2 linked regions of the Homo sapiens genome follow. The protein of the gene in region 1 interacts with the protein of each later gene in a pairwise test. Each region holds a gene or a part of one and is shown on either strand. Other genes may lie near its edges. The genes, in order: TFEC and DCK.

Region 1 (3,825 bases):
CTAATGTTCATTCCTAAGAGTTACCATGGAAGAGTATTTTCAAATTGTCTCTCTTCTTGAAACATGCTTTCTCAGTTTGCCACTGAGCCAGAGACTTCTTTTATACCTCCCTTTATTCCCTTCTTTATTCTTTCTTGCACAAACATGTTTCCAATGCTCAGCTTCCTTAGATGTATTTCCACCCAAGTAAGAATGTGAGCCTGCACATTTAAAAAATTTTTTTGAGACAGGGTCTCACTCTGTCACCCAGGCTTCAGTGTAGTGGCTTGATCAGGACCCACTGCAGCCTCGACCTCCCGGGCTCAAAAGAGCCTCCCGCCTCAACCCCCCAGAGTAGCTGGTACTACAGGCATGCACCATAATATCCAGCTAATTTCTTTTTATTTTTTTGTATTTTTTTGTAGAGATGGGGGGTCTCGCCATGTTGCCCAGGCTGGTCTCAAACCCCTGGACTCAAGTGGTTGCCTCAGCCTCTCAAAATGCTGGGATTACAGGCATGAGCAACCACACCCTGCCAAGCCTAGACTTCCTATCTGTTCAATCAAATATTTGGCTATATCTTGTTTTCCACTTGCAGCACTCATTCTATGCGGCATCTTTCCTCACGCTCCCAAAATCTAGACCAGTACCTACCGTATTATTGACAATCTGTCTATAGACAGGTATTTATCCCTGCCAATGTCTGCAGAGAACTTCTCAGGGGCTAATATGTTAACACTCTGTTCCCTTTGACCCTGTGTAGACTCAAATGGATTTGAACCTACTGAACTATCTGAGGTCTGCAATAGAAAGTTTGTCAGCAACATTTTCACCCCCAGCCTTTAAATTCTGGTAAAATTCTAGGCTTCTTCTTAATTAACATTTGGCTAAGAGGCATCTGATATTTTAGTAATACTCTCTAGTGTTTCTCCCCACTTAGCCAATCACTTTTCCTCTTCTACAGCTTATGATTGTCCTTCACATGTGCAAGGCAATTTTTATGTGATGGATGATCTGCTCTTTTCATCAGAATTGCACCTACTGTTAAAGATTTTTCTGTAGACATATTCAACCTTCTTTACTTTGTCATTGCTTTCAAATGTTAAAACATCTATTGCTTTTGTTGCAAACAACCATTTTTCTCTATTAACCCTTCTAATAGTGTTTGAAAAGCTCTGAGCATATCCACTCTTACAGTAGGAATAAGCCAGTGGATGAATCTGCCCAGTGACATGACTGATGACACCATTTTCTGGAGAAGGAAGAGAATATGTGATTTTACCTCGTTCAGTAATTTAATTAATATCTATGTAAGGTTAGTTAAGATGGAGGTGTACAAGTAGAGGAGGAGTGTACCTGGTGCGGTACTAGGTTCTGAGGATGCTAAGATGGATAAGGTATGCTACCTGCCAGTGAGCAGTTCAGGCATTTCAACAATTAATTACAGAGACAAATGTTACAATGAAAGTATATATGAATTATCTGCCAATCTGGAAAGGGTTCAAAGAGAAGATGGGTGAAGCATATCTTTAAAATGAATTAGCTATTCTTTAGGCAGGCGAAGGCATTGGGCCAAAAGGTCCAGTGGATCGAAAGACTAGCATGTGCAGAGTTGTGAAAAGCATGGCATATTCAGGGGTCTTTGATTAGAAGTGGAACCATTGTGTGAAATAACATGAAGTGGGGCTGAAGAGTTAAGGTGGGGGCAGACCATGAACAGCTATGCTTTTAAGAGTTGTTGGGTTTACCCAGAGAAGGAGCTTGATTTGATTATGTTTTAGCATATTTTGATTATGTTTAGTTTTATGTTCTCCAGCTCTGGCCATTTGGAAGACACATTAGAGGGTGAAAGACTGGAGTTATTAGTTTTAAATTTTTGTTGATAGAGTGTTTCTGTATCCGATTTAAGAGAGCAAAAATGACTGTATGTGGTGACTATGGGTAATACCTTCAAAATAGTTGTACCTTTGGCAAGAAGAGAGAGGCTGAAAAGATGGTAGAATGTACTTCATGAGAAAATTGAAGGTGATGTACTACTACATTTTTTACTGCAGCAATTCTCTCTTAAACTGAACATGGATTAGCAAACCAGTGGACTGAGCAAATATTTACAAGTGATCCAGTGATTTCTTTATGGTTGCTTGGTTTGATAGAACACACTGTGAAATGGGAAGTCAGAAGTTCAGCATTTTTAGCTTGCTACCAACTTGACATGTGACTATGAGTAAGTCTGTCTGTCTGTGTGTGTGTATTTCCTGAAGATTTCACATTGAATTAATATCTAGTGTGGAGAGTGAAAGGCTGGGGCTGGGCCTGAGGGTGAAGGTTGAAGTGTCTGGTGGTGCTTAAATCTAGGTCTCTTGTACCTGAAGAGCAGCTCTGAATTTGCTCCTGAGAAATCAAACTTGGGTTGGATTTAGGAGCTCTAAGATTGGAAATCTAGTTCAGAGTGCAAAGGAAGGACCTCTCTCCTTTTTCCTTTGAGGCCCTTCATCCCACATTTCTGAAAGATTTTCAGAGTACAGAACATAACAATGGGCCAATGTCTCATACATCTGGTCTTGTTTTCCTTAATATTCTCTCCTATTCAAACAGCCTCAGGGAAGCCTGCCTTAGGACAGAGCTTTTTAGAACAAAATGAAATAGAGGAAAAAGCAGCTCCTTGCATAATTTGAGAAGTAACTGTTAATTTGCCTTTTCTTCACAGGACATCTCTAGTGTTCCATATTTTCTCAAAATGTATTGCCAATTCATTTGCATCTCCATTTGTTTTTATATGAAACACTGGTTATACCGAGCTGTCTCTAAATTCACTTGGATTCAGGCCTAATGGACCACACTTAGTGAGATATATGACAGCTGATGAACAGTTGCTTAAGGGGTGTTTGTCTAAAGATGAAACAAACAAAACCATAGCAGCAACAACAACAACAACAAAAGAGCAAGCAAAGATATTCTGGAATATGATAGGAGATGGAAAAAATGTATAAAATAAATGGATAAGCTAAAACAAAATAGCAAGCAAAGATATTCTGGAATATGATAGGAGATGGAAATAATGTATAAAATAAATGGATAAGCTAAAACATGAAGTACTCTTCTTAACAGGGGGATAAAAGTGAGACCCTGAATGCTGAATATTCTTGCTTGAGTAGCAGTCATTTTAGAAGAGTTGTATTGAGTATCAAAACAGTATATTTTATGAAATATTCTCCTCTTCTTTGAAACAGGTGGTAATAGGAAACATTGATTGGGCTCTCCTTATGTACTAACGGCTTTACATGTATCATCTAATTTTTGTCTGACAAGACTCTTGGGGCAAGTAATGTTGTCTCCAGTGTTCAGAAAAGAAAACTGAGATTTGTGAAGGATAGGTAAATTTCCCAAGGTGAAAGCTGAACAGTGAGCAATGATTGGCCAAAGACTTAGATCTAGGTCTGGATGCTGTTTAGGCCCAGATGGATTATACAGTCTTTTCTAGGACCCTTTTAAATTTAAACTTTGTCTTTGTTGTTCTCTTTCATTCATTTTGAACAACCTCGCCTCTCCATAGGAGAGAAAGGGAAACAGTTCAAGGGAGAAGGGTAGAAGAAAATCAGAAATCACGGTTTTGCTAAAAATGGTTTCTAGGCTTACACATGGATAATGAGGCCTTTGACTGTATTAGATTTGCAAAAATAGTAGTTGTAGAGGTAACATGGGACCAGAAAAGATGGCTCTATTTCATAAAAGAAAGGGGCAAAGTGAAGGGACTCATTAATGTCGAAGCAGTAGATGGATAACCAGTGACAAATATCAAGTAGATTTGCTTCAGTTTGGTCAGAGAAAGGTCATTGATTATTTTTG
Region 2 (3,708 bases), on another chromosome or scaffold:
TCCCATGGTATGAACTAAAGCTTATCTGGAAAATTCCAATGACCTCTTCATACTACTAATGATGTTAAAAATATAGGATAAATTCACTTACAATACTATTAAATGAAAAGTCAGCATTAAGTATTAACAGCCAACCATCAATTTAACTGACTTTGTAAATCACTTTTTAATTTTATCTAACACTTCTTTGTTTTGACTAAGAATCATTTCACATTATTATATTTACTTTTATTAATAATGCTAGCAGTTGACTTTCTTATTAAGGTATTTTTACAAGGCAATAATTTTTGTTTCTTGAGAATTATTGAGTAGCCTAGAATATGTAGAGAACAAGCATATTCTTACATTATGGTCAGTAGGCTAGGTTCATTGACTCCTTACATGATTTTCTGCACACACTGACATTGCAAAGTATGTGATTCACATATGTGCTTCAGAAACATGACAAATCTACTACATGTTTGATTTTCAAAGTTGCTTGAACTATTGTGCTTATTAATGTTATCAGTGTTAAAGCTGCATATGTCAGTGGTCTATGATATTTAAATGAAGAGATTATAAAATTGGTGTTACAGCTATTTTAGAACTATATCTATCTTAGATTGATAGATGCAGTGGCTCACACCTGTAATCCCAGCACTTTGGGAGGCTGAGGTGGGAAGACTGCTTGAGCCCAGGAGTTCCTGACCAGCTTGGGCAACATAGTGAGACCTCATCTCTATAAAAAACAAACAAAAACTAGCCAGACATGATGGTGTGCACCTAGCCAGGAGTTCAAGGCTGCAGTGAGCTTTGATTGCACCACTGTACTCAGCCTGGGTGACAGAGCAATAAATAACTCCTAAAATGACCTTTTAGGTCATTCATCTTTTACTACTGAAGTATTTAACAATATTTCTTTTTTTTCTCGAGACAGTCTTGCTCCGTCGCCCAGGCTGGAGTGCAATGGCACAATCTTGGCTCACTGCCATCTCCACCTCCCAGGTTCAACCAGTTCTGCCTCAGCCTCCTAAGTAGGTGGGATTACAAGTGCACGCCTCCATGCCTAGCTAATTTTTTTTTTTTTTTGAGACGGAGTTTTGCTCTTGTTGCCCAGGCTGGAGTGCGATGGCGCGATCTCAGCTCACCACAACCTCTGCCTCCCAGGTTCAAGCGATTCTTCTGCCTTGGCCTCCCTAGTAGCTGGGATTACAGGCATGTGCCACTATGCCCGGCTAATTTTGTATTTTTAGTAGAGAAGGGGTTTCTCCATGTTGGTCAGGCAGGTCTCGAACTCCTGACCGCAGGTGATCTGCCCGCCTCGGCCTCCCAAAGTGCTGGGATTATAGGCATGAGCCACTGCGCCTGGCCTATTTTTGTGTTTTTAGTAGAGATGGGGGGTTTCACCATGTTGGCCAGGCTGGTCTGAAACTCCTGACCTTAAGTGATCCACCCATCTCGGCCTCCCAAAATGCTAGAATTACAGGCATGAGCCGCTGCGCCCGGCCTTAACAATATTTCTTTGGAAAGTAAATGCAATGGCATTGTGGTAGTTACTTATACAGCTGGGGTCTTCAACTATTATATACTTTTAAATGAAGATGAATATTAGATACCTCAAATTAGTCAAGGAATTATACTGATTTTTTTTTCTTCCTTTCCTCAGGTCAAAGAGTTTTTGAGTACTTTGTGATCTTGCTGAAGACTACAGGCAGCCAAATGGTTCCAGATACTTCAGCTTTGTGTATCTTCGTAACTTCATATTAATATAAGTTTCTTTAGAAAACCCAAGTTTTTAATCGTTTTTGTTTTAAGGAAAAAAGATTTTTAAAATGAATCTTATGCAAAACTTTTTGACCAGTTTCTTTTCTTTTGTTTTTTTTTTAAAAAAGACATTTAAAGACAAAGACATTATTTCTCATAGCAGGAAATGTAGAGGTAGATGGTTCCAGTATCAGCATAGTGACTAAACTACATTATAAAAGATCCAGCTTCCTTCTGTCATTCCCCTCTTTTGTCTTCCTCAGCAGGTTGGCTTTTTTCCCTGGTGCCTCTCACTTCGTTGGTGACCAGTTTCTTAAACTGAAAGCTTTAATGTTACATAGTAAATGGTAGTGTGTCCTGTGTAAATTAGTGTACCTATTAAAAGTTGCAAAGTGGAATTAAAGGAATCCCTAGAATAAGGATTCTGAAGTTTTATTTTAAATTATTATCTTCTTAACAGTTTAGTCCCACCTCTTACTTCCTGCCTCAGTCTGCTTTCTCTACTGTCTGGATTAATTAGGCAGCCTGCTATAAAGTTAAAGTCACACATTTCTATTTTGCAAACACTGTGATTACTCTTTGCTTTGTAGTTTGCTTTGCTTTGTAGGGTTCTGCTTTTAAGTTTTTCTCTTTTTCAGACAAATTACTGATAAAAATGATATTGCTCTATATGTAATATATCCTGAAAGCATTATTTTTTGTTGAATAGGAAATAAAATTAATGAAGACAGAGGCTAGAAAGCATCCATTAATTAATGAGACACACTTAACTACTTATCTCTAAACCATCTATGTGAATATTTGTAAAAATAATGAATGGACTCATCTTAGTTCTGTATATAAATATATTTTCTTTCTAGTTTGTTTAGTTAAGGTGTGCAGTGTTTTTCCTGTGTATTAAACCTTTCCATTTTACGTTTTAGAAAATTTTATGTATTTTAAAATAAGGGGAAGAGTCATTTTCACTTTTAAACTACTATTTTTCTTTCCAAGTCATTTTTGTTTTTGGTTTCTTATTCAAAGATGATAATTTAGTGGATTAACCAGTCCAGACGCACTGATCTTTGCAAAGGAGACTTAATTTCAAATCTGTAATTACCATACATAAACTGTCTCATTATACGTATGCATTTTTTTAGTTTGTTTTTGTTTGGTATAAATTAATTTGTTAATTAAATATTTCTTAAGTATAAACCTTATGAACTACAGTGGAGCTACACTCATTGAAATGTAATTTCAGTTCTAAAAAGATGTAATAATCATTTTAGAATTAAAATTTATTCTACTTTTAAATAAATTATGAATATTAAAGGTGAAAATTGTATAAATTACTTTGATTCCATTTTAAGTGGAGACATATTTCAGTGATTTTTAGTAACCTTTAAAAATGTATAATGACTTTTAAAATTTGTAGAATTGAAAAGACGCTAATAAAAATTTATTATTTATTTGTCATGACTCAAAAGTTGTCTCAGTGTGGTGGTCATAATAGAATTGAGCCTAATGGTGGTCTGGATTATCTCTTGGATCTATTACCTATATCATGTCTTCCATTAGAATTTATTTATTGCTCTTTATAGTTTGCTCTCCTAGAAAGGTAATTAATAATACAAGACTTATTTTTCTCATCCAGAATTTTCTCTTCTGCTATGCCTAAAACTTGAAACTTATACCGAGCCACCTAGAACTTAAGTCTGTCATATGTTAAAGAACAGAGTTGTAAAATGTTTCTAAAATAGAGATATAGATGTTATTGCCTTTGAAAAATGCTAGATACATTGCAACATTAAGTCTGGTAAATAATAGCCTTCTTCATTTGACTAACTTACCTCTTCTTTTAATTTTTTTTTTTTTTTTGTTTTGAGAGAGGGTCTTGTTCTGTTGCCTAGGCCGGAGTACAGTGGCGCAGTTATAGTTTACTGTAGTCTTAAACTCCTGGGCTCAAGCAATACTGCCTCAGCCACT

The links.
Region 2: the proteins of TFEC (region 1) and DCK interact in a two-hybrid assay, tested with the Homo sapiens proteins (one large-scale study listed by BioGRID and IntAct).

Annotation. Positions count from the first base shown.
Region 1 is NC_000007.14:116,023,995-116,027,819, reverse strand, and holds part of TFEC (transcription factor EC), read left to right. Parts: intron 1-2,033; exon of another isoform or gene 2,034-2,203; intron 2,204-3,825. UniProt on the Homo sapiens protein: Transcriptional regulator that acts as a repressor or an activator. Acts as a transcriptional repressor on minimal promoter containing element F (that includes an E-box sequence). Binds to element F in an E-box sequence-specific manner.
Region 2 is NC_000004.12:71,027,707-71,031,414, forward strand, and holds the end of DCK (deoxycytidine kinase), read left to right. Parts: intron 1-1,645; coding exon 1,646-1,672; 3' UTR 1,673-3,208; downstream 3,209-3,708. UniProt on the Homo sapiens protein: Phosphorylates the deoxyribonucleosides deoxycytidine, deoxyguanosine and deoxyadenosine. Has broad substrate specificity, and does not display selectivity based on the chirality of the substrate.